4 linked regions of the Homo sapiens genome follow. The protein of the gene in region 2 purifies or fractionates together with the protein of the main gene of each other region. This does not show direct contact. Each region holds a gene or a part of one and is shown on either strand. Other genes may lie near its edges. The genes, in order: GCFC2, DHX15, CHERP and CUL2.

Evidence for each region.
Region 1: the proteins of DHX15 (region 2) and GCFC2 purify together in Homo sapiens (co-immunoprecipitation; 3 studies listed by BioGRID and IntAct, with this or other methods). This does not show direct contact.
Region 3: the proteins of DHX15 (region 2) and CHERP purify together in Homo sapiens (co-immunoprecipitation; 3 studies listed by BioGRID and IntAct, with this or other methods). This does not show direct contact.
Region 4: the proteins of DHX15 (region 2) and CUL2 purify together in Homo sapiens (affinity purification with mass spectrometry; 2 studies listed by BioGRID and IntAct, with this or other methods). This does not show direct contact.

The regions. Positions count from the first base shown.
Region 1 is NC_000002.12:75,665,916-75,672,941, forward strand, and holds part of GCFC2 (intron Large complex component GCFC2), read right to left. Parts: exon of another isoform or gene 6,401-7,026; intron 6,102-6,400; coding exon 6,035-6,101; intron 4,370-6,034; coding exon 4,223-4,369; intron 139-4,222; coding exon 14-138; intron 1-13.
Region 2 is NC_000004.12:24,574,537-24,581,562, forward strand, and holds part of DHX15 (ATP-dependent RNA helicase DHX15), read right to left. Parts: intron 2,143-7,026; coding exon 1,707-2,142; intron 1-1,706.
Region 3 is NC_000019.10:16,539,431-16,547,259, forward strand, and holds the start of CHERP (calcium homeostasis endoplasmic reticulum protein), read right to left. Parts: upstream 3,008-7,829; 5' UTR 2,949-3,007; coding exon 2,924-2,948; intron 2,614-2,923; coding exon 2,440-2,613; intron 1-2,439. UniProt on the Homo sapiens protein: Involved in calcium homeostasis, growth and proliferation.
Region 4 is NC_000010.11:35,010,336-35,017,361, reverse strand, and holds part of CUL2 (cullin-2), read left to right. Parts: intron 1-967; coding exon 968-1,170; intron 1,171-3,561; coding exon 3,562-3,663; intron 3,664-5,397; coding exon 5,398-5,514; intron 5,515-6,919; coding exon 6,920-7,026.

The sequences.
Region 1 (7,026 bases), on a different chromosome or scaffold from region 2:
AAATATGCATTACCTGAATTCACTTCTAGATAATTTATGTGCAGACTGCAATAAAAACTGAATGAAGTTTTCTAGCTGTGGAATAGATGTCCTCATGGCAGAATTTTCAAACCATTTTTCTGGTAGACATGCTGCTACCTGTTAATCAAAACACATGGCTGGTTTACAATGACAGTTATCTAAGAAATCTTGCTAATATAATCTCATAGTGATACTGTAAGCTGAGTATCATTCTCCCCATTTTATAGTTTATGGTTAAATAAAAATTTCTAAAGATTTCCCTTTGTGTCCAAGGCTACATATATTTTGGAATTCATTCTTTAATGCTAAGAACTTAAAATACACTACTCTCTATGAACACTCCCTGGTAGTACTAGTAATTCTTTCTATATTCTTGTATTTGTGAGTCATTAAATCTGTACAAAACATAATTTACAACTAAAAACCAAAAATGTCTAGACACAAAATATTTGGTCAATACAACTCTAAAATACATACATTCACTATTATTTTATAAAGAAATTGGATGGCCTAGCATATGATCTATATGGAGTTAAGGAACCAAATGGGTGATTCTAAGATACAAAGAATGAAAGATAAATTAATTATGTTTTTAATCTTCTATCAGTGTAATACATTGCCTTAATTGTAAAGCAGCAGAATGAATCAATGTAGGTGCATTCAATTTTTCTTTTGGAAATGGAAATTACATTTTATCATTGTCATCCTAAGAGTAATACAAGATTTTGAGAAAAGTTTTGGTAAAAACAGAAAAATGTTAGAAAAAATTTAAAAAGTAAAAAAAAAAAAAACTTCCTCATAGCAGAAACAAGGGTAAAGAAGGGAGGGAAAAGGGGAGAAAGGAAAAAAACTTGATATTGTTCCCGGAGAGAACAAAGTATGGCTGCCTGCTCTTGAGGTCCGAAAACGAGATGCAGACAATTGGGAAAGAAGGGAGGTCAGAGTAACTCACCAGACCAACTCAAAGTTCTAAGCTTTTTTCTAGTGCTTGTATATATTTAAAGCTCCGTGCTACGTGTGGGATTGTAACTGCAAGTGGGAGTGTTGCATTCAATCTCTATCTCATCTTTAGCTAGGGACTAGGGTCTGGAAAGCTTTCTCGAGAGTCTTGGAAAGTTTCTTAATCTTAAGACAGAATGAGGTGTATGTGTAAGAATGCTTTTATTATTCCATCAGATTTCAGGGGCTGAGAAAACCCAGGCAGGTTCTTAATGGGTTGGTTTTTGCATTCCAGTTTTGTACTCAGGCACCAGTTTCTCCAGTTTTTTAATGTTTAGCTTACACTTTCATTAACGTTATAGTAACGGGTTCTTGGAAACTGATCGTTCTGTTTGCTAATGGAAACCTGGCCTGTCACAATATCACACTATTCAAGGAAATTCCTAGATAATCATACAGATTATGCTACATTTGGTAACATCAAGATCAATATAGAAAGCAGAGAGTTGGGGAAAAAATTAAAATGCACCCTATATATTATACAGTATATTAAATAAACGTTCTGGAATGCGCTCTTTCTAAGATTGGTCAGCATTTAAAACATGGTTGAGGAAAAAGAATTCTACTCCTTAATCACCTGTTTCAACTATTCAGGAAAAATACTGACACACTGACTGCCTAAGGCAGAAGATCCTACAAGTTTTGTTATGTAAACTCTTTTTAAAAGTTTTAAAACCACCCTTTACTATTGAATGTCATTTGCACTTGTTTTCCCCTTGTTTTGTATTACAAGTCTCAGTAAAATTCTCATTTAACCATGTAGCTTTTGCGTTAATGATCCCAGCACTAAAAGTCGATTTTCTTGGCCTGGTTTTCTAACCATATGCTGTGGAAAGAATGCTGTGTAAATATATTTCCTCTTCTCCACTTCATAATAGACCCTATGGTCAAAGGGGACTAAACTAAACCTGAACAACATTACATGGATGATGATTTAAATTTTTAATATATAATGCTTAAAACTATGATATAAAAACTATAGCCAGAACAATCATGGTTGGCTACTAATTGATATATAGTTTTATGGCAGACTAGGTTTCCATTAGCAACCAGATGAATCAATTTCCACTAACCCTTTTCTATAATTTTGATGAATGTGTAAGTTAAACATTAAAGAGCTAGAGAAACTGGTGCCTGAGTACAAGAACTGGAATGCGAAAACAAACCCATTAAGACCCTGCCTGAGTTTTCCCAGATCCTAAAGTCTGATCAAATAATGAAAGCATTCTTACACATACTCTTTGTACCAGGGCCCACTTAAGATTAAAAAACTTTCCAAGACTTTAGAGAAAGCTTTACAGACCCCAGACGGTAGTTAGATTGTACAGACTGAATGAAACACTCTCACTTGTAGATGCACTCTCCCATGTAGCATGGAGCTTAGAATGCATATAAGTGCTAAAGAAAACAAAACAAAACAAAACAAAACAAAACAAAAAACCAAATTGTAACTTTCAGTTGGTCTGGTGAGTTGCTACAACCTTTTCCCTGTAACTGGTTGCAAAAATAAGCTCCTTTCTTTCCCAGTCTGTCTGCATCTTGTTATTGGGCTGCAAGAACAAGCAGATGGACCCTATTCTATCTGGGAACAGTTTAGTGTGTATGTGTTTTTAATTATAAAATAATTATTTTCCCATATTCTTAAAAATTCTTCAAAAACATAACTTTTGTGAACCCAAAAGTATCTGAGACAGGTTCTGAGATTTATTTTCCTTTCACATTTTTATCTTATGAGAAGACCATCATGTTTTTAGGGATATGTAGGTGTTTCCAACTATTTTCTATTATAAATAATGCTATAACAATATTCTTTGTACTTAAAATCTATATGTGCATCTCTAATTTTTGACTTAACTTACTTTGGCTAAGTCAAAGAATATAAGCTTTAAAAGTTTTGTATCCATCATGCCAAAATACTCTCCAAAAGAGCTGTATCCCTCCTTCCCCCAGTGCAGGAGACTGTTTTCCAGAACCACTGCACTGCATACAGTGAATGGTGCCCCTGCAATGATGGAACTGTTGTTTTCCTGTGTTTATAACACTGGAAATCGTAAGTAAAATAACAACGCCAAAAAATGTTTGCCAACACAACTGGTCAAGTAAATATCCTTCCTATAAATAATTTCCATTTCTCTGATTATTAGTACTATTAATTATTTTCACATATTTTAAGGTTAGTTTTACATATCCTTTTAGGTGACTTTACTGTTGCACGTGTTTTGGCCATTTTTAGTCAGAACATTTGAATTATTTACTAAATTGTAAAGAGCTTTTTTATTTAATGTGAATATTAACACTTGTTACATGTTAACAACTTTTTATTTCCTAGATTCTTAACTTTTCTAACTTTCTATTATACAAAATTTCAAACACAAACAGCAGTAGAAAGAATAGTATAATGAGCCCAATGAACACATTCCCCAGTTTTAATAATAATCAATTAATCCCAATACCTTTTTGATCCACTAAAGTTTTATATTTTTTCAAATTTATTACTTTTTCTCATAATTTCTTCTTTTGCCTTTAAGTTTAGAAGGAACTCCCTCACTCTCAAATATAGTCATTTACCATCTTAGTATATTTTATAGTTTCATTTTTACATTTTTTAAAATTTTACCTGAAATTTTTTTGGTGTATAGTGAGAGGTGAGGACTTAACATTCTTTTTGTAAACAGCCAGCCATCTAGCATCATTTATTAAGTAATTTTTCCTTTCCCTACTGGGGATATTTCAAACCAGTATACTCTTTCTTAAATACAGAAGAGCGGCTCTGCATTTTAGCTTTGTTAAATTCATTTGTCAATTTTTTTTTTTGAGATGGAGTTTTGCTCTTGTCACCCAGGCTGGAGTGCAATGGCGGCTCACTGCAACGTCTGCCTCCTGGGTTCAGGCGATTCTTCTGCCTCAGCCACCCAAGTAGCTGGGATTACAGGTGTTAGCCACCGCACCTGGCTAATTTTTGTATCTTTAGTAGAGACGGAGTTTCACCATGTTGGTGAGGCTGGTCTCAAACTCCTGACCTCACGCAATCCGCCTGCCTCAGCCTCCCAAAGTGCTGGGATTACAGGCATGAGCCACTGTGCCTGGCCCATTTGTCTATATATGAGTACCACACATTTAATTATTTTGCTAAATAATAGATTTTAATAGCTAAATTTTTTAGAAATGATAAAATTAGAATCAGTCTTCCTTCACAACTTACCTGGTTGCACTTTTTAACCACATCTGGCCCAGGTGTGGCATTGAGAAGTGCTATAATAAGGTAACGATTTAGCAGCTTCCCTAGTCCTAGTTCTTGCAAGGTGTCATCTGTAAGGAGTCCATTCCAAAGAAGAATATTGCGGAAGAGCTAAAATAAAATATCAAGTAAATATGTACCTTTTCTCCAAAGAGAAACTGTAATAGTCTCTAACAAACATGAAGAGTTGGTCAAACTAAAATTCTCACTACAATTAGCCCTGTTGGAACTGTCAATTTTAGAATACAATATCTCTGAATAAATACTTGATTCTTTCCAAACTCCATGTATTTGCTCATCTTATTTTCATTTTCTAGGATAACCATCCCCAAATCTATCTCAAATAACTTCACTAGAGCCTTTCCAGATCAATAATCTTCCTTCCCAATCCATTTTCTCTCAAAGCCGGGGGCCATCAAGTATAAGACCACAGGACCACGTGATTCATAAAGAACTACTGTCAAAACTAGGGCCGCCATTACCAACATGTGACCTTGAGAAGGCAATCAACGCTGAGAGCTTCATTCCTCTGATACATAAAGATTTATAATCACCTTTGAGTTTGAAGATAACTTGGATTAAGTAACCATAATAAATTCTAATAAAATATTGGTTGTCCTTTCCCTCTACTAAATTCAGATCTTTCTGTGAATTTTAAGGTGTTTCTTTTTTTGCAGTACTATATTCATTACTCTGAGTGCTGAACTACATGCTGTTTTACTAAAATGTAATGCTTTTTCACATTTTATCTCATTGTTGATGTTGTTCCCTCTTCCCAGAAAGCCTTTTCCCTGATTCAACCACATGACAAATATTAATTCACACTATTAAAACTACTCTTGGTGAGGTCACCTATATCCTTCTAATTGTCAAATCCAATAAACAGTGTTTCAGTCTTTCTCTTAATACTCTTTGGTGGCATTTAACACTCTTTTCTTCATTCTTGAAAATCTTTCATTTAGCTTCCTTGAGGCCATTCTCTTGTGATCATCCTAAGGCTCATAATTGATTCTACAGATTCCCTGAAGCCTCCATGTTCTCCTCTTCTGTTAGTATTTCCCGAGGTTCTGTCCTTGGCCTACTTCTCATGCTTCATCCAGTCTCCTTACGCAGCTTGCCATTCATGACCATGGCTCCAAATATTACCTACAGGTAGTGGACTCCCAAATCTCTAGCTCAGATCTGTCTCCTGAAATTCAGACTTATGTATCCAACCACCTCCTAGACCTCTGTATCTCTATTTGTCCCACATATATCTTCATTATGTACAAAATAGATCTTATCTTCCCTTGATCAGTTATCGACTCCTTTCAATGCTTCCTCCCAAACATTGTTTGAACCTTCTTCTCCTTCTCATCCCTACTGCCACTGACTTAGCAATAATTTTAAGGCCAGGGGTTAGCCAACTATATAGCTTGTGGGTTAAATCCATCCTGTTGCCTGTTTTTATAGGGTCCGTGAGCTAAGAATGGTTTTAACACTTTTCAAGGACGTTTTAAAACTGTCTTTAAACAAAATATTTTGTACCATGAGGAAATTATATGACATTCAAATTTCAGTGTTCATAAGTTTTATTCAAACAGCCATGTTCATTTGTTTATGTACTATGACTGTTTTTGTGCTACAGCGGCAGAGTTGAGTAATTCGACAGAGACCATGTGACCACAAAGCCTAAAATACTATCTAATTCTTATAGAAGAAGTTTGTTGTTCTTTGTTCTATAGTAAACAGGATTTTTACAAAAATTGCCTTTTCATTTTTGCAGTTTTTGCTCACCTTTAGGCCTGACCAGAACTGTCTTTCTTGGAACTTTGAATGAGGTGATGTTTTGTTTTCTACAGCACTAATTAGAAACAAACGAAAGAGAAGAGAAAATGCAAAGAACTATTAGTCTTTCAGAACCAGAGTTTAAGATCAGACTTTCTTTTAAACCAACCAAACTAAGCCTTAATGGAATATAAATAGAGATTGTTTATTTTATTTTATAAATAAAATATATATTTATTTATAAAATATATATTTATATATTTATAAATATGTTTATAAAATATATATTTATATATTTATAAATATGTTTATAAAATATATATTTATATATTTATAAATATGTTTATAAAATATATATTTATATATTTATAAATATGTTTATAAAATATATATTTATATATTTATAAATATGTTTATAAAATATATATTTATAAACAAATAACTAATATATCACATTCATACATCTGAACCATGTGAATGCATTATCTAAAACATTATAAACAAAGTTTACCAAGGCAGAATTTTTACATGTAGACATCTCATGATTCAAAATGAATCAGAAAGCTTTGAGGTTCCTTTCTTCCCCCTCCATAAAGCTCCTCCATCCTGTCACTACTCACTGGATTGCTACAGTTCATGCATCATTATAACTGATGGCTTCTTAGCAAAGTTATGATCATACATCAAATACTCGTTTTATAATTTAAAGTGACTGCAGAATTTACAGGTGCAGTTTCTCGTTCCTCAGCATTGTGCTTCCTCTGTGCTAGGCCCTGTTGTGTTCTGAGCATTCTCTTCATCTCCCTAATATCCTGTGAGGTAGGCACTAATTTTATCCTTATTTTATAGATGAGAAAACAAGTGCATAAAAATACCTACTAACAGTGGACGTGTGCTCTTTACCACTCTATATCACCTGCTATGTTCCTAGGATATATGTAAAACCAAAACCAAAACCAACCAAACAAAATTCATCTAAGCGCCAAGATAAAGCACGGCTT
Region 2 (7,026 bases):
AGGCTACCCATAATCAGACCACAGAATAGCAGTATGAAATATAAAACTTTAGATATAAAGACAAAAGGTACAAAGTTTTAAATATTGAGCCCACCAAAATCCATAATCCATGTAACCCAGGACAATCCACTAAACCTAAGTTTCTCATAAACTTAAACCTCATTTTGCTCATCTGTAAAGTGGTGATGAATATCTTCCTGCAGGGTTATAGAAAAACGTAAATGAGCTAATACATGTAAAGTATACAGTGTCTGGCTTTACCCAAATATCAATTAAATAGTAAGTTCAGAGTTACAGTCTTTCTTGTAGTTTGAAAATTCTTAAAATTTCCGTAAGGTGATTTTTGAATACCCTAACATCAATTCTAAGTTTTCCTTCATTAAAAAAGAAAAATTGGCAAGGCTAAGGCAGGAGGATTGCTTTAGCTCAGGAGTTCAAAACCTCAACTCTACAAAAATTTTATTTAAAAATTAGCCAGGCACTGGTGGCATATGCCTGTGATCCCAGCTACTTGGGAGGCTGAGGCAGGAGGATCGCTTCAGCTCAGGAGGTTGACGCTGTGTTCATACCACTGCACTCCAGCATGGGTGAAAGACTGTCTCAACAACAACACAAAAATTAAAAAAAAAAAAAAGAAAAGAAAAGAAGAATGGTACTAAGGCTCAGTCTATAATAAAAGCTTCCTATTTTGGTTGCTACAGTACCTTCAAAATGTCTCCATGCACATGTAACTTTAGAAAAAGATAAATTGTGTATGCGGTATGTTCAATCTCTGCATGGTAAGACAGGTAATTCACTTCAATACTTTCCTGAATTTTTCAAAGTTTCTACAATGATCAGGGACTGCTACTTTTGAAACCAGAAATTTTTAATTGATGGTTCAGGCTTAAGTGTATAAAGACAGTTACTTCTCACCCACAGCAAGAAAATGCAAATTAAAAAGTACATTAGAATGCAATTTTTCACCTATTGGATTTGTAAAAATTCACGTTTTAATAGTTTCCCACGTGTTCTCCTACATGCTCATGGAAAGGTAAATTGATACGCTCCCTCTGGAAGGCTATCCAGCTTTCTGTATCACAATTACAAATGATCTTCTGACCCAGCAATTTCTGCTTCCTACAGAAACACTTGACCCATGCAAAACAACCATGGGAAACAGTCTAAATGTCTATCAACAGGGGTCTAGTTAATAATAGCCCATCCATGTTTAAAAAATATCCTAGCTATATTACAAATAACACACTAGTAACAGTGTTTAGTTCTATGGGAGGGAGGACGACTAGATGGACAAAAGTCACCGGTATAGACTTTATATTACTTTGGCATTTCATTTTTTGCATGGTTCAAAATACCATATTAAATACAAACGACAAAAATCTACCCCAGTGATTTCTCCACCCAAGTACCAGAAAACAAACTGTGGGTCCCTAAATCTGTACTGTCCGGGAGTCAAAATACCTCTGCCATACATAAGGTAACAAAATTTGAAAAGCGAGCACCACTATTTTCCCCTAGATTCAGGGGAGAGGTATTCTCTATAGGATTTCCACTCTGAAATTCAGAGTGCCAATTAAACATCAAATCAGCTATTCTTCAAGATGTTCTATAGGACAGACAAGGGAAATGACCACCAGAATCAAATATGCAACATTTGGTAAACTTAAACATAAATGAAATATGTACCATGGTATACAATAACTCACCTGTGTTGTTTTACCAGACCCAGTCTCACCAACCAGTACAAAGGACTGATGTCTAACCAGAATATCTGTAAACCTATCCTTGTATTCCCAAACAGGGAGCTGAAGACGTTTCTTTAGAATATCATAGTATCGAGGAGTATGGGGTAAGTTGGTGAACGGATTAATGCACTGTGGAAGTGACGTGTGACCTGCATGTCCGGCATGCGTTGAATGAGCAGAATGTGTTGAATGCGTTGAATGTGCTGAGTGGGTTGAGTGAGCTGAATGGGAAGCTTTCAAAGGTGGTAATCCAGCACTGATAAGCATAGCATTTGTTGAAGCTCGCAACTCCTTCTCCTTTTCTTTCTCCCTCTCTCGCTCTCTATCTCCTCTATCACGTTCTCGGTCTCGATCTTTAGACCGATCTTCACGATCCCGGTCTCGATCTCGATCCTTCCTAAAAACAAAAATTTAGAATTCAGATTCTGAATTTTATGCAGAATGTTCACGGTAGCGTTATAATCACAAAGAGAGTAAATGTCCAACGTTCAAATGAATAAAAAGTCCAATGGATTATGTAACTATCAGAAATAATAAAAAATACCCTACAATCAAGGGTTTCCCATTCTCCACCACAAACATCTTTCCCTTCCTTGCTGATGCCCCACCTTCCTTAACTTTTAACATTAGGTGAGGTAACACAAGAACTCAGTCTGCTGCAAGTAAAACCCCTCCTACTTAGACAACAGAAATCAGATACTGAGGGTAGGATGAAGAAAGGATAGGTCCAAATTGAGTAAAAGAAGATGGCATCTCAATCTTTCTCAAATTCTCCTTCAATTTGTGAAGAGGTATTTTGTGCACTAAAAGTATATTCAGAAGTTAGCACAAACACTGCTACTGGAGATAAAGACAACTCCACCTCACATCATTACAGTCAACAGTGGTGGGTTTTGCTCAATACTTTTATAATCCACTTCTAATAAATTACTTTAATATTCCTTTCTTTGCCATAGGACGATGTTCGGTTGTAATGCAAAGTGAAAAGAGCATAGTACAATGTTATACCTGTCAATATCTCAACTAATACAAATACGAATTACAGGACTGCAGAATTTGTTTTCTTAGTTATACTTTCCAGCACTTTCCCAATTTTGTTCAGTAAATGTATATTGCTTTATTAAAAAAACTGAAATTAAAACTTTTATTCCTTCTTGCTTGTTTACTCTTGCATTTTAACCTAAACAGCAACAGCAAAACACTGAAAGCACTCTATAAATCTATGTACCTTGGTCTACCATAAAATGAAACATAGCCAAATTAAAAATAAGCTTTGCTAAACACTATTAAGTTGTTTAACATGTTAAAATTATGCAGGTAGCCACTCTATTAAACCTGGGTCAATTTTAAGTAGTCAATGCTGGTATCTACTTCCAGTTACTAGAGATTGACCTTAATAAGTCATTTTAAAAGTATCTATGCTAAGAACTTCACAAGCAGAATGGCTGCAGGTTGTTCATATGCGTTGTGGCTGAAAGCAGCCTCTGGGAGACTGGTGGTGGGAATAAAATAAAATAATCTATGCTTGTTCATTTTACTAATCCAGTTTACTTCAGACCAAGTCCATCAGCAGAGAAATTTGCCTCAAGATCTTTAAACCCAGACTTGAAATAATGAGACATGACGGAGCTATGACACAAGCCCCGAAACATGTCATTGTTCCTTACCCACAATACACAAAAGTACAAATTCCCTGTGCTCCAAGTGCAGTTGTGTGACATGTACAAATTTACTCAAAAAGGGGAAAAGCCATATATATGCATATATAAACATGAAAAGTGATTTTCCCCTCTTCCATCCCAATGTTCACCTTCTACAAAAATCACAGAGCATACAAGCCAGAACTGTATGAAGCCTCTCATTTCACCTGGCATAAACAGAAAGAAAATCAATGGGAAAGAAAAGTCAAAGGATAACTTAATAAACATAAAATGAAGTCTCACAATTCAATACTTGAGAGTCTGGACCTATCTTCTGAAATATGCCATCAACTATCTTTGCTTCTCCTGCTTCTGGCCTAAGGTGACTGTTAATTAAGTGTTTACATTGCTCCAAAATGCCAACGAGGTGTAGTTTATAATAAGAGTACACAGAAATGTGCCCAGCAAAGTAAGAAGCACTGTACTCACAAATGGTTCAAATACTTGACACCTTAAAGATCATGGATCATACAGCTAGAAAAGAACTCTTAAAGAACATCTGGTCTGAACAAAAAGGATTCATGTTTCTAGTATTCACTCAACCATGGGGGAAGGAGGAGATGACAAAAAATATAATTGAAACAACTTCCTTTTTTTTGAGATAGGATCTTGCTCCATTACCCGGGTTGGAGTGCAGTGGCTCACTGGATCATGGCTCACTGCAATATCAAACTTCTGGGTTCAAGTGGTCCTCTCACCTCAGCCTCCCGAGTAACTGGGACTACAGGCATGCACCACCACGCCTCGCTAATTTCTTATTTTTGTAGAGATAAGGGTCTCACCATGTTGCCCAGGATGGTTTTCAACTCCTGGGATCAAGCAATCTCTTGCTTCAGCCTCCCAACGTGCTGGGATTACCGATGAGCTACCATGCCCAGCCTAGTTTAATGATTTCTATACTTCTAGCATAGTACCAGGCAATTAAGACATGGTCAAGAGTTACAAAATTTGGGGGAAGAGAGGTGACAAAGTAAATCATGTATTATATATTGCCTTAGTTTGTTAAAGTAATACCTATACTAACAAAGATTTTTTCAGGGGCCCACTTCATCAGATGCTTCATTACCAAACCAAACAAAGGATGTATAAAATACATTCTAAAGATAAAAGGTTAGCTGCTGATCAAGCAATGGCGACAGCTGTGGTATTAAGATAAAAGGAATGCTGGAATCACCATTGCAAGACACTGCCTCAATTTACTGATCTGCAAAATGAAGAGCATTTTCAGATACTTTTAGTCTCAGATTAAAGTAAGAAAACAGGGAGGATGCAGGAGGCAAATTCAGACACCTGGAAATGTTGCTTATGGCTCAAACTACCTTCCTTCGATGAGAGAGGGAGTACAAATGAAAGGTGAGTAAAAGGGGAAAATCAAACCCTCCACTTCATAAATATTTGTCAACTATTGTGCACATGCGTGTTTTCTTTTTTAAAAGATACTTTTTATTATAAAGGAGTTTTGTTCTTAAAAGTTTACTAGTTGAAGTATAAGGGTTTTTAAAAACTGGTATCAAGTCAGTGCTTCAGACACAGCCACACCACGAGCAGGGAGGGAGGTATGACATGACACAGTTGTTGAACATACTGCTCTGTACTGTGTCTCAGTTCAATCTTGGCTCAAGACTTAAGCCAACTATAGGATCACAGTTATTTCTTCCCTCACCTATAAGATGTGGCTATCAATATGTTTTGTAGAGTATAGATAGGATTAAATGAGTTAATATATGTGATGTGCTTTAAGTGTTGTCTGGCACATTGCAAATGCCCAATATCGGTTGTTGTTGTTATTATTACTATTATTTTGAGACGGAGTCTTGCTCTGTCACCAGGCTGGAGTGCAGTGGTGCAATCTCAGCTCACTGCAACCTCTGCCTCCCTGTTTCAAGCGATTCTCCTGCCTCAGCCTCCAGAGTAGCTGGGACTACAGGCACATGCTGCCACACCCAGTTAATTTTTGTATTTTTAGTAGAGACGAGGTTTCACCATGTTGGCCAGGATGGTTTCAATCTCTTGACCTCATGATCTGACTGCCTCGGCCTCCCAAAGTGCTGGGATTACTGGCATGAGCCACCGCGCCCCACCAATATTGGTTATTATTAAAGATCTTTTTAAGTTCTAATACCATGTTAAAATTCTACATGGAGGGCAAGACCTAGTGACTCACGCATGTAATCCCAGTGCTTTGGGAGGCCCAAGTGGGAGGATCACCAGAGGCCAAAAGTTTGAGACCAGCCTGAGCAATACAGTGAGACCCCATCTCTACAAAAAAATTTTAAACTTAGCTAGGTGGGGTGGCACGCCTGTAGTCCCAGCTACCTGGGAGGCTGAGACGGGAAGATCACTTGAGCCCTGGAATTTGAGACTGCAGTGAGCCATGATCACACCAGTGCACTCCAGCCTGGGAAACAGAGGAAGACCCTGTCTCTAAAAAATAAAAAAATTCTACATGGAATAATAACAGGCACTGAAGTACTGCTAAGGAAGACATTAACTGGTCATCAAAATCATGATATTTTAAATAAGCATTGCTTTTTTTTTTTTTTTTTAAAGACAGTCTACCTCTGTTACCCAGGCTGGAGTGTAGTGGTGCAATCTCGACTCACTGCAACCTCTGCCTCCCAGGTTCAAGCAATTCTCCTGCCTCAGCCTCCGGAGTAAGTAGCTGGGATTACAGCAGTGCGCCACCATGCCCAGTGTATTTTTGTATTTTTAACAGAGACAAAAATAGGTTTTATTACCTTGGCCAGGCTGGTCTTGAACTCCTGACCTCAGGTGATCCATTCGCCTAGGCCTCCCAAAGTGCTGTGATTACAGGTGTGAGCCATCACACCCGGCAATAAGCACTGCTTTTTATCCGTCAATCTTATTTCCAGGAACCTCTCAAGGATGTGTGCAAATACGTATGTATAAGGATGTTCATCAAACTTCTCATTTATAAAATAGCAACAAGTGGAAAACTACCTAAATATCAATGAACAGGATATTGGTTAAATAAGTGATGTCATACCTTTACAACTGGAGTACTATGGCAGTCAATCTATTTATTTTTTATTATTTTTTTTTTTTTGAGATGGAGGCTCGCTCTGTTGCCCAGGCTGGAGTGCAGTGGCACAATCTCGGCTCACTGCAAGCTCCGCCTCCCGGGTTCATACCATTCTTCCTCAGCCTCCCAGAGTAGCTGGGACTACAGGTGCCCGCCACCACACCCGGCTAATTTTTTGTATTTTTAGTAGAGACAGGGTTTCACCGTGTTAGCCAGGATGGTCTTGATCTCCTGACCTCGTGATCCACCCGCCTCGGCCTCCCAAAGTGCTGGGATTACAGGCGTGAGCCATTGCGCCCGGCCTATGGCAGCCAATTTAAAAGCGTAATGTGTACCTACAGTTAATGACATTTCTGAGTGGAAAAAAAAATCAAAGTACAAAATAACACGCGTTGATCCCACTGATATTAAATTTTATAGTTCATATTTTTGAGTCAATATGCAGAGATCTTAGAAAATGTTCACCAAAAACTGTTATCCAAAGATGGAGATGAAGATTTTAGGGAATGCCTTCTTTAAACCTTTGAGTATAAACATT
Region 3 (7,829 bases), on a different chromosome or scaffold from region 2:
GCCACCGCGCCCGGCCTAGCAACGGTTTTAAACTTGGTGTGCTGGGGCTAAGGAAGGATCGCTCTAGAAACACATAAGCACATACAATATTTTGCTTACGATTTCAGGCAGCTGATCTCTCTCCACCCCACCCCCGCATCTCAAACCTAAATAGGCATCAGAAAAACCCCTGGATTGAGTGAAAAAACCCAAACTTTTCCCCTGGCAGTTAACACTCCAGGTCAAACTCTTCCCTCATACAAGCACATTCTTTTATTAAATAGATTCTCTACTATGTCACCCAGGCTGGAGTGCAGTGGCTATTTACAGGCGTGAGGCCACTACTGATCGGCACAGGAGTTTCGACCTGCTCCATTTCTGACCTGGGCCAGTTCACCACCCCTTAGACAGTCGAGTGGTCCCCAGCTCCCAGGGGGTCACCATACTGACACTGAACTTACTGCACACACTCAATCGACACAGCGCACTACAGCCCTGAACTCCCGGGCTCAAGCAACCCTCCAGCCTCAGCCTCTTGAGTAGCTGGGGGTACGGTGTGTGCCACTGTGCCTGGCAATACACACATAAACTCTCTCTCTGTTTCTTGTTCAAGAAACTGCCCCTTTGCAATGTTCTACTCTCTCAGCCTTTCAAGTTTTTGTTGTTGTTGTTGTTAGATGGAGTTTCGCTGTCTCCCAGGCTAGAGTGCAGTGGCACGATCTTGGCTCACTGCAACCTCCACCTCCCAGGTTCAAGCGATTCTCCTGCCTCAGCCTCCCGGGTAGCTGGGACTACAGGTGCCCACCACCATGCCTGGCTAATTTTTTTTGTATTTTTAGTAGAGATGGGGTTTCACCATGTTGGCCAGGCTGGTCTCGAACTCCTGACCTCAAGTGATCCGCCTGACTCAGCCTCCTAAAGTGCTGGGATTACAGGCACAAGCCACTGGGCCTGGCCTCCTTTCAAGCTGCTTTTTTTTTTTAGATGGAGTCTCATTCTGTCACCCAGGCTGGAGCGCAATGGTGTGGTCTCGGCTCAATGCAACCTCCAGCTCCCAGGTTCAAGCGATTCTTCTGCCTCAGCCTCTCCAGTAGCTGGGACTACAGGTGTGTGCCACCACACCTGACTAAGTTTTGTAATTTTAGTAGAGATAGGGTTTCACTATGTTAGCCAGGCTGTTCTCAGACTCCTAACCTCAAGTGATCTGCCCGCTTCAGCCTCCCAAAGTGCTGGGATTACAGGCGTCAGCCACTACGCCTGGCCTCCTTTCAAGCCTTTTCTTTTTCTTTCTTTCTTTTTTTTTTTTGAGATGGAGTCTTACTCTGTCACTCAGACTGCAGTGCAATGGCGTGGTCTTGGCTTACCGCAACCTCCACCTCCCGGGTTCAAGCGATTCTCCCGCCTCAGCCTCCCAAGTAGCTGGGACTACAGGCGCGGGCCACCACACCCGGCTAATTTTTGTATTTTTCGTAGAAACAGGGTTTCACTATGTTGGCCAGGCTGGTCTCAGACTCCTAACCTCAAGTGATCTGCCCGCCTTGGACTCCCAAAGTGCTGTGATTACAGTATGAGCCACTGCAACAGGCCTCCTTTCAAGCTGTTTAATCGAACACCAACTGTGTGTTATGTATTAAGGGACAATGACCTTGTACCTTAATACAAGACGAGCGTGTAGTCCCCTGAACTACACGCTCGCCGAAGCCAAACAGACCTTGTTTGGGTCATTGTACCTTAATACATAACACACAATTGGCGTTCGATCAAACAGCGGACAACCACCTCTCAATGTCCATCTACCTGGCAAACTCCTAGTTATTCATTTAAACAATCTAGAGACGGGGTTGGGTACTGAACGTGACAGATGTGATACCTGCCCTGAGCAGCCGCACCACCTGGTGACTATCCATTATTCAAAGGCCAGCTCTGCTTCCTAACTTTAAACTTCTTTAGAGCAGGACTGGAATCCTGTTGCCTAAATGAACGAACATTGATAAACACTTGCCAATAACTAAAACTCAGAGGGATAATTCTTTTTGATTTCTGCTGCAGGCATCTGAAATGCACAAAACCTTGCTGGACCCACAGGGAGACGGCAAAGGGGGCTGGACAGTGCCTGTCCCATGGACTCCCATCCGGCCTCTATCACTTCCTCCCTAGAAAACACTAAAACAATCACGCTACTCCTGCTAATCTCCGTCATCAGTCTGCAAAACAACAGCAAAATCCCTGATCCAGAGCCCAGGGGGGAGGATCGAAAACCTCGTTGTTCTCCATTACAGTGGCACCCAGCAGCCGCTCTGTGCAGGGCCGTGGGAACAGCGGAACAGGGATCGTGTGGACCGAGCTGCTCCACTTCAAAGAATAAACGACCCGAAAGAAAGAGGTTTGTGGCAGAGCCCGGACTGGAATCCGAGAAAGGAAGCGCTCGATGGGACGGCCTGAGTGCCGGAGGGGACTCACGCTGCTGCTGCTCCAGCGCCAGCTTGCACTTGTAGTAACTGTAGAATTCGCCTCCGAAAAGAAACGAGAATTTGGGGTTGTCCTTCTGCTTCTCCATAGTCATCTTCTCAAACTCGGGCCCATTGCGAGCCACGAACTGGGCGAGCTTGTCGATGACATTTCGAAGCTCCTGGTCTGGAGGACGGAGAAAAGGCCACGCGGGGCGTCAGCGAGGACCGCCCAAAGCCGGGGGACTCGGCGCCCCAGCCCCCGTCCGCCTTGCCGGGGACCCCAAGGGGGTGGGCCCCGAAGAGGCCGCCCTTGTACGGGTCCCGATAGGGGCCACACGCTCGCCGGGAATGCGGGGACCCACGGGAGAGGCCGCAGGCGAAGCCGCGAGGCCGAGCCCCGCCCCCTCCCAGACCCGGGGACTCCGGGAGGCGGGGCCGGCCAATAGGAGGTTCCGGGGAGAGAGAAACGGTCTCTCGGCCGGTTTGGGTCTCACCATCGGGGGGCAGCGGCATCTCCATGGCTCCGGCCGCGGGGAACGTCCTCCGGCGCCACACGATCGACCACCAGCGCCGTCTGCGGAAGCCGGCCGGAAGTGGCGCGAGGGAGCCGTTTACGGCGGGCTTCTAGGGCCGCTTCCGCCCGCCACTTACGGCCGTCGCTGGGAAACTCCGGAAGTGAGAGCGGGAGGCAGGCGGGAAGAAGCCGCGCGATGCCTGGCGCGCGGGAGGGGCTAGCGACGCGCACGCGCAGAAGTTTCCTGACACTTTCGCAGAGTGGGTCCCCGTCGCGCGGCGCCGCGGAAAGGCTGGAACGGCGCGGGTGGGTGTTAGTCGAGACCGGGGGGCGCGGGGCGTGCCCCTTGGTCGGCGTCGCAGCCCGATGGGCTGGCTGGTTGCTACCTCCGGGCGACCAGGGGCCTGGGGACTTCGTGCCTGGGCCAGGGTCTCTTTCCTTTCGCGGGCACAGTGAGGAGACTGCGAGGTGAGGTGCGTCCGGGTGGATCCCGGGCTGCGGCGACTGTCACATTCTCCCCGGCCAGACCGGAGGTGGAGCAGAACTGGGGGCGACGAGCTTGACTGGGATTGCAGCTGGACGTATTTAGGTTCAAAACATCCTCCTCCTGGCTTTCTTCCGCTCCACTCTTTGGTCAGGAAGACTGGGGCGGGGTACCCCCCAACCCATGCCCTCAAATTGCTGGCCTAGAGGGCACAGCGCCTTTCTAAAAGCTGCAGTTGGGTTGCCTCTAAAATAATGAAGCTAACCCTTGCTAATTGTGGGGAAAAGATAGCCAGAAGCAGCAAATTTCTGCTGTGGACGTCCGATATAAACTGATCCTCTTGAGATGGTTAATGCTTAGTTGGCTATACCTGCCCCCCGCCCCCGCCGCTTTTTTTTCCTTTATCCGTTTTTTTTTTTCTTTTTTCTTGAGACAAGGTCTTGCTCTGTGGCCCACGCTGGAGTGCAGTGTCATGATCATAGCTCACTAGCCCTGAACTCCTGTGCTCAAGTAATCCTCCCGCCTCGGCCTCCCAAAGTGCTAGGATTATAGGCATGAGCTACTTTACCCAGCCTGTTTTTTTCTGTGCAAATAAATGCACATGTATTTTAGATTAGTTTCATTTTTATTGTTAACAGCATTTTTCCACCAGATGCTTATGGATTGACAACTCTACATCAAGTGTTGCTGTAGGCTAGGAATCAACAAAACTTTTTGTATAAAAGGGACAGAAAGCAAATATTTTAGACTCTGCAGGTCAGGAGGCAAGATCAAGGATTTTTTTTTTTCTAAATGTCCTCTAGTTCATATTTTCTCATGAAGATCGAGGATCTTAATTGTTTGGTTTTTTTTTTTTTTTGAGACACAGTCTTGCTCTCTCTCGCCCAAGCTGGAGTGCAGTGGTGTGATCTCGGTTCACTGCAACCTCTGCCTCCCGTGCTCAAGCAATTCTCCTGCCTCAGCCTCCAGGGGAGCTGGGACTACAGGTGCGCACCACCACGCCCGGCTAATTTTTGCATTTTTAGTAGAGATGGGGTTTCACCAGGTTGGCCATGCTGGTCTTGAACTCCTGACCTCACATGATCTGCCTGCCTTGGCCTCCCAGACTGCTGGGATTACAGGTGTGAGCCACCCTACCCAGCCTTATTTAGGTATTTCTATAACCAGAAAGAAAAGTTCATAAAATTTTTGTTGGTGAAAATCAAAATATGATAACTGAGTAGTTTCTTAAATACAAGTTGCTACAGTTTGAATGTTTGTTCCTAATCCCCAGTGAAACAGTATTAAGAGGTGGAGCCTTTAAGAGGTGATTGGGTTATGAGGTCGTGCCATTCATGTGTTAATGGATAAATAGGTTATCATGGGAGTGGGACTGGTTTGGAGCTTGCAGTGAGCTGAGATTGCACCACTGCACTCCAGCCTGGGCGACAGAGTGAGACTCCATCTCAAAAAAAAAAAATAAATAAAATAAATAAAATAAAATAAAAAGAGGAAGAAAGGCCAGGCTCAGTGGCTCATGCCTGTAATTCCAGCACCTTGGGAGGCCAAGGCACGCAGATCACCTGAGGTCAGGAGTTCGAGACCAGCCTGGCCAACATGGAGAAATCCCATCTCTACTAAAAATACAAAAATTAGCCGGGCATGGTGGCGGATGCCTGTAATCCCATCTACTTGGGAGGCTGAGGCACGAGAATCACTTGGACCCAGAAGGCAAAGGTTGAGGTGGAGGTTACAGTGAGCCAAAGTCGTGCCACTGCACTCCAGCCTGGGCAACAGAGCAGGACTCCGTTTCAAAAAAAAAAGGAAGAGAGACCTGAGCTTGCACACAGCCTGCTAGCCATGTGATGCCCTGTGCTACCTCAAGACTCTGCAGAGTCCCCACCAGCAAGAAGGCCCTTGATTTTGGATATCTCAGCCTCCAGAACTGTAAGAAATAAATTTCTCTTCTTTAAAAATTGCCCAGTCTCAGGTGTTCTTTTATAGCGATGCAAAATGGACTAAGACCCAAGTCTATTCATAAGAGTGGAATTCTTTTGGGGGATAACATTTCACTTAATTGGGGCTCCCAGTTGTATTTCCTGTCGTCAATTGATGGTACATGTTCACCTTTGAAAAACCTTCCTGGCTCACAAAAACAGGCGGCCAGTTGGATGTGGTTTATAGATACGGTCATGCACAACTCAGATCTCAGCTCTGCTCTCAGGGGACTCAGTCTATGGCGGGGAAGAGTCCCAAAATCAGTAAACAAATATATCATCTCAAAGGTGTTATTAAGAAGAGGATGCTGAGACTATGATACAAGGGAGGGTGAGGCCCAGGCTGATAGGGTTGTCAGGAAAGGCTCTCGAGGTGAGGTCTGCACTATGATCTGAACAAGGGGCCAGCTCTAAACACCCTAAACAGGCAGAGAGAACAGTGTGGGATCATACTGTTTATTTAAAAAATATTTTTTATTTTTTATTTTTTTTGAGATGGAGTTTCACTCTTGTTGCCCAGGCTGGAGTGCAATGGCGTGATCGCGGCTCACCACAGCCTCCGCCTCCCGGGTTCAAGCAATTCTCCTGCTTCAGCCTCTCGAGTAGCTGGGATTACAGGCATGCGACACCACACCCGGCTAGTTTTTTATTTTTAGTAGAGATGGGGTTTCTGCCTGTTGGTCAGACTGGCCTCAAACTCCCAACCTCAGGTGATCCACCCGCCTCAGCTTCCCAAAGTGCTGGGATTACAGGCATGAGCCACCGTGCCTGGCCCTAAATTTTTTATATATTTTTTTGAGACGGAGTCCTGTCTGTTGCCCAGCCTAGAGTGCTGTGGTTCAATCTCGGCTCACTGCACCTTCCGCCTCCCACACTCAAGTGATTCTCCTGCCTCAGCCTCCTAAGTAGATGGGATTACAGGCGCCTGCCATCACACCCAGCTAATCTTTGTATTTTTAGTAAAAACGGGGTTTCACCATGTTGGCCAGGCTGGTCTTGAACTCCTGACCTCAACTGATTTGCCTGCCCTGGCTTCCTAAAGTGCAGGGATTACAGGCATGAGCCACCGTGCCCAGCCCATACTATTTGAAGAACAGTCAGTAATCCAGAGTGTGGGCACTTTTCATGCCAGGTAAAATCTACATGAAGAAGTTTTTTTTGTTTTTTTTGTTTTTTTTTTTTTTGAGACAGAGTCTTGCTCTGTCACCCAGGCTGGAGTGCAGTGGTGTGATCTCTGCTCACTGCAACTTCTGCCTCTGGGGTTCAAGCAATTCTGCCTCAGCCTCCCGAGTAGCTGGGACTACAGGTGCACACCACACCCAGCTAATTTTTTTTTTTTTCTGAGGAGTCTCACTCTGTTGCCCAGACCGGAGTCCAGTGGTGCAGTCTCTGCTCACTGCAAGCTCCACCTCCCGGGTTCACACCATTCTCCTGCCTCAGCCTCCCGAGTAGCTGGGACTACAGGCACCCGCCACCGCGCCCGGCTAATTTTTTGTATTTTTAGTAGAGACGGGGTTTCACCGTGTTAGCCAGGATGGTCTCAATCTCCTGACCTCGTGATCCGCCCACCTCGGCCTCCCAAAGTGCTGGGATTACAGGCGTGAGCCACTGCGCCCGGCCTACCCCCAGCTAATTTTTGTATTTTTAGTAGAGATGGTTTCACCATGTTGGCCAGGCTGGTCTAAAACTCCTGACCTCAGGTGATCCACCTGCCTCGGCCTCCCAAAGTGCTGGGATTACAGGTGTGAGCCACCGTGCCCGGCTACATCAAGGAGTTTTAACTTGGGATCTCCAATGGATAGATTTCAGAGAACCATGAACAAAATTGGTAGCAAAATAAATGCCTTTTTGAGGGTTGAAGATACACAGCGTTTACAGGATTCTTAATAGGCTCCTCAATCAGAACAGGTTAATGAATCTGTATTGTCATTTTTTTTTTTTTTTAGACAGAGTCTCACTCTGTTGCCTAGGCTGGAGTGCAGTAGCATGATCTCGGCTCACTGCAACCTCCGCCTCCCAAGTTCAAGAGATTCTCCTGCCTCAGCCTCCTGAGTAGCTGGGATTATAGGCATGTGCCATGACACCCAGCTAATTTTTGTATTTTTAGTAGAGACAGGGTTTCACCATGCTGGCCAGGCTGGTCTTGAACTCCTGACCTCGTGATCCACCCGCCTCGGCCTCCTAAAGTGTTGGCATGACAGACGTGAGCTGCTGCGCCCGGGCGATGTTGTGATTTTTGAGGCTGCATAGGATGCCATGGTGTGGACTCACCACAATTTACTGAAGTGAGACTCTAGTCTCCTGGCTTGGTTCCATTTTTAGGCCACTGTTAAAAGTGTCTTAAGTGTATATAGGGTTGGGCGTGGAGGTTCACGCCTGTAATCCCAGGACTTTTGGAGGCCAAGGCGGGCAGATCACTTGAGGCC
Region 4 (7,026 bases), on a different chromosome or scaffold from region 2:
ATGAAAACATTCAGATTAAACATTTTTATGAAAACATTCAGATTCTTTTGCTATCAACTTTCAGCAAGAGAATGGGTCTGCCTGTTTGTCTCTCCTTTCATACCTGTTTGCCTCTAGGAAGTTACTGGAAAGAAAAATGTTGTTTATGAGACATAATAGCATTAATTTTGGCAGAAATTACAGCTTAGACAGGGCCTCAAAAGCATTTTCCATGTGGCTGTGGACCTCCCAGGAGGCTTGAACCTTACCTGGGAGAGCCCAGCTATCGACAGCACTTGAGGCTGTTGCTGATATCACTTTGCCCTTTGTCTGTCCATTTCTCCTTCTCCCACCTCCTTTTATTGTTTGGGTTTTTTGTTCTTTTCTTTTTCTGCCTAAGTCTTAGCATTTCTATTAATATTTAAAGACTTTTTTTTTTGTTTTTTTTTTTTTTTTGAGACAGAGTCTCGCTCTGTCACCCGTGCTGGAGTGCAGTGGTGTGATCTTGGCTTGCTGCAACCTCCGCCTCCCAGGTTCAAGTGATTTTCCTGCCTCAGCCTCCCAAGTGGCTAGGATTACAAGCATGAGCCACCATGCCTGGCTAATTTTTGTACTTTTAGTAAAGATGGGGTTTTACTATGTTGACCAGGCTGGTCTCGAGCTCCTGACCTAAAGTGATCTGTCTGCCTCGGCCTCCCACAGTGCTGGGATTACAGGCGTGAGCCGCTGCGCCTGGCCTTAAAGACTGTTTTAACCTACTGGTGAAGTTATGATAGTTTTACTGATTTATACCATATACTCAAAACTAATAGACTTCCATCCTCACCTCCCCAAGAAACAAAATGACTACCTTGTTAACAGCAGTGGCTTTACAACAATTTAATAAAATTATTGGTTCACTCTTTCCGAAGAAAATGTCTGAAATAAAGTAAATTTGAAATGTTTCTTTGAATGGTCAATTCACTGTCAGTTTTTGTTTTAATTGTAGGTGAAGTTAAAATGAACTATTTGGGCAAACCATATGTAGCCATGGTTACAACATACCAAATGGCAGTTCTTCTTGCCTTTAACAACAGTGAAACTGTCAGTTATAAAGAGCTTCAGGACAGCACTCAGATGAATGAAAAGGAACTGACAAAAACAATCAAATCATTACTTGATGTGAAAATGATTAACCATGATTCAGAAAAGGTATGTAGTAATATTCCAAAGAATTTAAGCATCATCAGCATTAAAGCTTTTTCATGAGATGTTTGCAGTTTTAAAATAAGGCTGTAATTGTTATTGTGCTCTGGAAAGCACTTGTATTCACTACGTTACTGTACGCTCCATAGAGCTGCGAGCGTTAAGGCATCACAGAGCATGCTGTGTGAGTTGGTGCCATGTGCCGTTTATAGTTTGATTTTATTTGTCCTATACTGTTACAGCTTATTGAATAATTGTAAAAGAATTGCCATCTGGAAGATTTTGATTAATTGAGATTTTGAAACTAGCCTTTAAAGACTTTCCAGGTTTTTGGTTTTATAAATGTGCTTAATTTCATGGTTCTATAACAGGAAATGACAGCCTGTTGATGTCTGTTTGTACACATATTTAATATGTGTAACTCCATTCCAAGTGTTCTTAATGTCAGCACTCAATTAACTGTCATCTGTTTTTAACCACCATATATTTTTAATATCTGTCACAAGAATAACAAGCCATTAGTATATTACTTTTTTTCTCTGTAACTTTTTTTCTAGTTACAAGATTTTGCTGTTTTGTTGTCATAGTATATCCTAGATGTTTAAATAGTTAAAAATGCAACAGAGGTGGGATTATATCTCCTTCAAATTATTGTGCTTATAAGAAAAAATTCCTATAAATAATGTTTTGTTTTTATTTTTGTAAAGTTAATAGCCTACAGTTTATTTCTCTCATTAATTCATTTTGCTGACATCCCTAGGATTATGATGACATTTTATAGTCTATAACTGAACAACTGTAAAAGGCATATTCTGAAATTCAAATCAATGTTTTCATAATTTTGAGAAATGATTTATCTGGCATCAGAATCTTAGCAAAATATGGATTTTTTTTTTTTTTTTTTGAGACGGAGTTCCACTCTTGTTGCCCAGGGTGGAGTGCAATGGCGTGATCTTGGCTCACTGCAACCTCCACCTCCTGGGTTCAAATGATTCTCCTGTCTCAGCCTCCTGAGTAGCTGGGACTACAGGCACGTGCCACCATGCCCAGCTAATTTTGTATTTTTAGTAGAGATAGGGTTTCACAATGTTGGCCAGGCTGGTCAGGCTGGTCTCGAACTCCTGACCTCAGGTGATCCACCTGTCTTTCCCAAAGTTCTGGGATTACAGGCGTGAGCCACTGTGCCTGGCCAAAATAGGGATTTCTTAAGGTTAATTAATTATGGTTTCTAATTTTAGGCTAGTAAATTCTTAAAGGTTTTATATTTTTTTCTAAAACATGCTATTTTTGCTGCCCAGAAATTGACAAAGTAAACATAGATTCCTTGTTTGCACTTTAAATTTTATTTTATGTTTATTTATTTTTGAGATGAGATCTTGCTGTGCCACCCAGGTTGGAGTGCAGTGGTGCCATCTCAGCTCACTGCAATCCCCACCTCCTGGGCTCAAGTGATAATCCTGCCTCAGCCTTCCAAGTAGCTGGGACCACAGGTGTAAGCCACTATGCCAGGCTAATTTTTTAATTTTTAGTAGAGACCGGGTTTTGCTTTGTTGGCCAGGCTGGTCTCAAACTCCTGAGCTCAAGTAATCTGCCCACCTCAGCCTCCCAAAGTGGTGGGATTACAGACGTGAGCCACCATGCCTGGCCTTTAAATTTAATTATGAATCTGTCCATTCCTTAGCAGAATGTCTTAGATTATTATTGAGAATTATTTCATCTTCCAAGTGCCTTTTGATTCTGCTGCCAGAGAAATTCCACTCTATGATATCAGTGGCTTTCTTAAGCCTGATACAGAAGTTGTTATTCTAAAAATTGCCTAAACAGTTTTCCCCTGAGCAAAGGCCACTTGCTTCTTGAAGAGTGAATAAAACATGGATTGAAATAAATGTTTTCACCATCACCCCAGGTCACAGCAAATTGATGCTGTGTGCTACTGGAGGCACAGCTTTCTCTTGTCATCAGGCCATTTACAGTGGGTATTTTGTTACTGCGGCATTTGTAAAAAAAAATGTGGTTGCTTTTTCAAAATGGGGTGATGGAAAAGTTACGCACTTTGGTGTTTCATAAAAATTAAAATGTCAAACTCTAGGCAATGAGCTTGACTCTTATTTTATCAAAAAGTAGTGTATATAGAATAGTAGGACCAGAAAATAGCTTATTCCCAAACATAAACTGCTTAAGATTCTGGCAGATGTAAAAGTAGAAAATAATTGGGTTTTTTCCTGTTTGTTTGAACAAAAGAATTATTTTTCTCTTAAATTTGGTAATCTATAATATAAAAGTTATGAGAGTGGAGGCTTTTTTGCTTGGTCATTAATTTAGCAGAATTGCTTGCAGCAAACTCTTATTTAAAGATTTTGGTTTTTATAAATATAAATGTTTTATTTTTAAATGTAGGAAGATATTGATGCAGAATCTTCGTTTTCATTAAATATGAACTTTAGCAGTAAAAGAACAAAATTTAAAATTACTACATCAATGCAGAAAGACACACCACAAGTAAGTGCTTTTAATGTCAAGTTTTTTTTGAGGGGGAAACATTTAAGCATTGGACTTTACAAGTGTTTACATTGAGATTGTGCAAAACTTTGCACAGCAAAATTAATAATGGGATATGTCTTTTCTGGTTTGTTGTTGGCATTTATTAACCTTACAGTCAAACAGAAATCTCTACTTGTATTTTAGTTTTTTCTAAGGAAAAGGGTATGGTTTTGTTGTATTTGCTCTTAAACCATTAGAATGTGTAACTATGCATTCTCTCCGAAAATTCCCACATTGAGAAGTAATAAAATTTCATATTTTTCATTTGTAAAATAAGGGAAAGTTCTCCAGTTCATTTTTTTTTTTTTTTTTGAGACGGAGTCTTGCTCTCTCGCCCAGGCTGGAGTGCAGTGGTGTGATCTCGGCTCACTGCAAGCTCTGCCTCCCGGGTTCACGCCATTCTCCTGCCTCAGCCTCCTGAGTAGCTGGGACTACAGGCGCCCACCACTATGCCTGGCTAATTTTGTTTTTTGTACTTTTAGTATAGACGGGGTTTCACTGTGTTAGCCAGGGTGGTCTCGATCTCCTGACATCGTGATCCGCCCGCCTCAGCCTGCCAAAGTGCTGGGATTACAGGTGTGAACCACCGCGCCTGGCCTACAGCTCATTTCTTTCAAAGAAAATTTGTCAGTAGAAAATGCTTCTTAAACTTTCATATGCAAATGAGCCACCTGGGCATCTTGTTCAAATGCAGATTGTGATCTAGTGGGTGTGGAGTGAGGTACTGACAGGCCAGTGTGAGGAGGGGACTTCTGCTCTTCATTATTTTAACTCAGCAGTGATTGTTGCTTTGGTCTGGGATAGACTGTTTCTATCACTTATGCTTCCTGATTGCCTCCGGTGTGCAGTCCTTGGGCTGATGCAGGATGTGAAGATAATATAAGATGTTAGACCCTCTCCAGAAACTTAATTCCCGATGGGGGGAGACAAATATTAACTGCCATTTACTTTGAAACCTAAAATGGTCAAGATTCCATTTTCCTCCAGGCTAATAAATAATAATTTGCAATATATAGATTGTATTTTGTCTTTGAAACGCTGTGAGGAGATCCTCTTAATGTGGCATGGTCTGCTTCTATGCCTTGCTTCTGTGTTTCTTGAGCTCCGTGGAGATAGGCCCCCTCTCCTGGCTTCTCTGCTTGAGCCACATAAAATGCCACTTCACAGCTCTTCCCTTTGAAGCCTGATCCAGTATGCATTTGGAGCTAATTACTGCAGTTGACACAACTCCATCTAAAAGCGTCATGAAAGATTCTGTAATCACTGATAAGAAAATGATCTTGCAAATTATTGCTGTGTCCTCCTTTATTGCCTCTTTACCTTAACAGTACAGTTTACAATAATGTAAATTTTTTTCTAATCTTTCAACTTTAACCCTAGAAATTGTAGATGTTTTAGCAGTGGTTATGTGATATTGGCACAACATAACTATATAATTTGCTCAATATTGTGGTGCATACCTGTAATCCCAGCTGCTCAGGAGTCTGAGGCATGAGAATCACATGAACCCAGGAGATGGAGGTTGCGGTGAGCTGAGAGCGAGTCACTGAACTCCAGCCAGGACGACAGAGTGAAACCCTGTCTCAAAAAAAAAAAAAAAAAAGTATTTGCACTCACTGATAAAATGAATTGAAAACAAGTTCAGTGACTTAATGTCTTGTTGGGTCTTTTTTCTTTTCTTCTGTAAAACAGGAAATGGAGCAGACTAGAAGTGCAGTTGATGAGGACCGGAAAATGTATCTCCAAGCTGCTATAGTTCGTATCATGAAAGCACGAAAAGTGCTTCGGCACAATGCCCTTATTCAAGAGGTAAAAGGAGGGCAGTCCTCAGGGCTTCTTAGGGTAGAGGGCATTGTCATTGTACAGATTCAGTCTCTTTCTTCTTAAAGAGGATACAGAAATAACCTGATCCTCAGATAGCATAAAGAAATGTTTCATACTTAATCAGAATCGTACTCACTCACAATTTCAGTATTAAATTCAGATTTGCAGGCTGGGCACAGTGGCTCATGCCTGTAATCCTTTTTGTTGTTGTTGTTGAGACAGAGTCTTGCTCTGTCGCCCAGGCTGGAGTACAGTGGCGTGATCTTGGCTCACTGCAACCTCTGCCTCCCAGGTTCAAGTGAGTCTCCTGCCTCAGCCTCCCGAGTAGTTGGGAATACAGGCGTGCACCACCATACTTGGCTAATTTTTGTATTTTTCGTAGAGACAGGGTTTCACCATGTTGGCCAGGCTGGTCTCGAACTCCTGACCTCAGGTGATCCACCTGCCTCGGCCTCCAAAAGTGCTGGGGTTACAGGTGTGAGCCACCATGCCCAGTGGACACCTGTAATCTGAATGTCTTGTTAGGCCAAGACAGGAGGATCACTTGAGTCCAGGAGTTTCAGACCAGCCTGGGCAACACAGGGAGACCCCATCTCACCTAAAAAAAAAAAAAAAAAAAAATTAAAAAATTAAAAAATTAGCCAGTTGTGGCGGCACACTTGTAGTACCAACTACTTGGGAGGCTGAGGCGGGAGGATTGCTTGAGCCCAGGGATTGAGCCTGTGTGACACAGTGAGATGCTATCTCAAATGATAATAATAAATTCATATTTGCTTTGGCTTTATTTTAGAGGTCTAAAACTTGCTGATTCATTGAGTCTTCTGTCCAGTTATTGAAGGAAATTGACCCATCAGATATTCATTCATTCCATAACTATCTGAGCCTACCATGTGATAGACAGCTGGGCTGGTCCCTGGGATATAGCACAGAGCAGCTGAAGATATGGCAGGCTTTTTTGGAGTTCACAGTTTAATGGGGGAAGAAATACACTATTGAAATGATATGCAAATAAATGTAAAATTACATTAGCATGCACTGAAGGAAACGTATACAGTACTATGAGAATGTATTTAAATATCCTGGCCTAGGGGCTGCTGGGGAAAACTTTCTTGAGAAAGTGTTTGAACTAAGAGCTGAGAGTTGAGTTAAATAGAAGCTTGGGGTTGTGTGTGAGTACTTAGGTTAATTAGTTTATTGTTTCACTTAATTATGTATCATTATTAGATTTTGCTGTATCCATTTTCCACATTGTAGTTCCTATTTTCATACTTAATTTGGCCCATTTGTTGAAACCTCAGTACATTTGAGGCACTTTAAACTGATTGGTTAAAAGTCATTACTTAATAGCTGAAGAACTGGCAGTAGTTTGACTTCCACATCTCTTCCACAGGTGATTAGCCAGTCAAGAGCTAGGTTTAATCCCAGTATCAGCATGATTAAGAAGTGTATTGAAGTTCTGATAGACAAACAATACATAGAACGCAGCCAGGCGTCGGC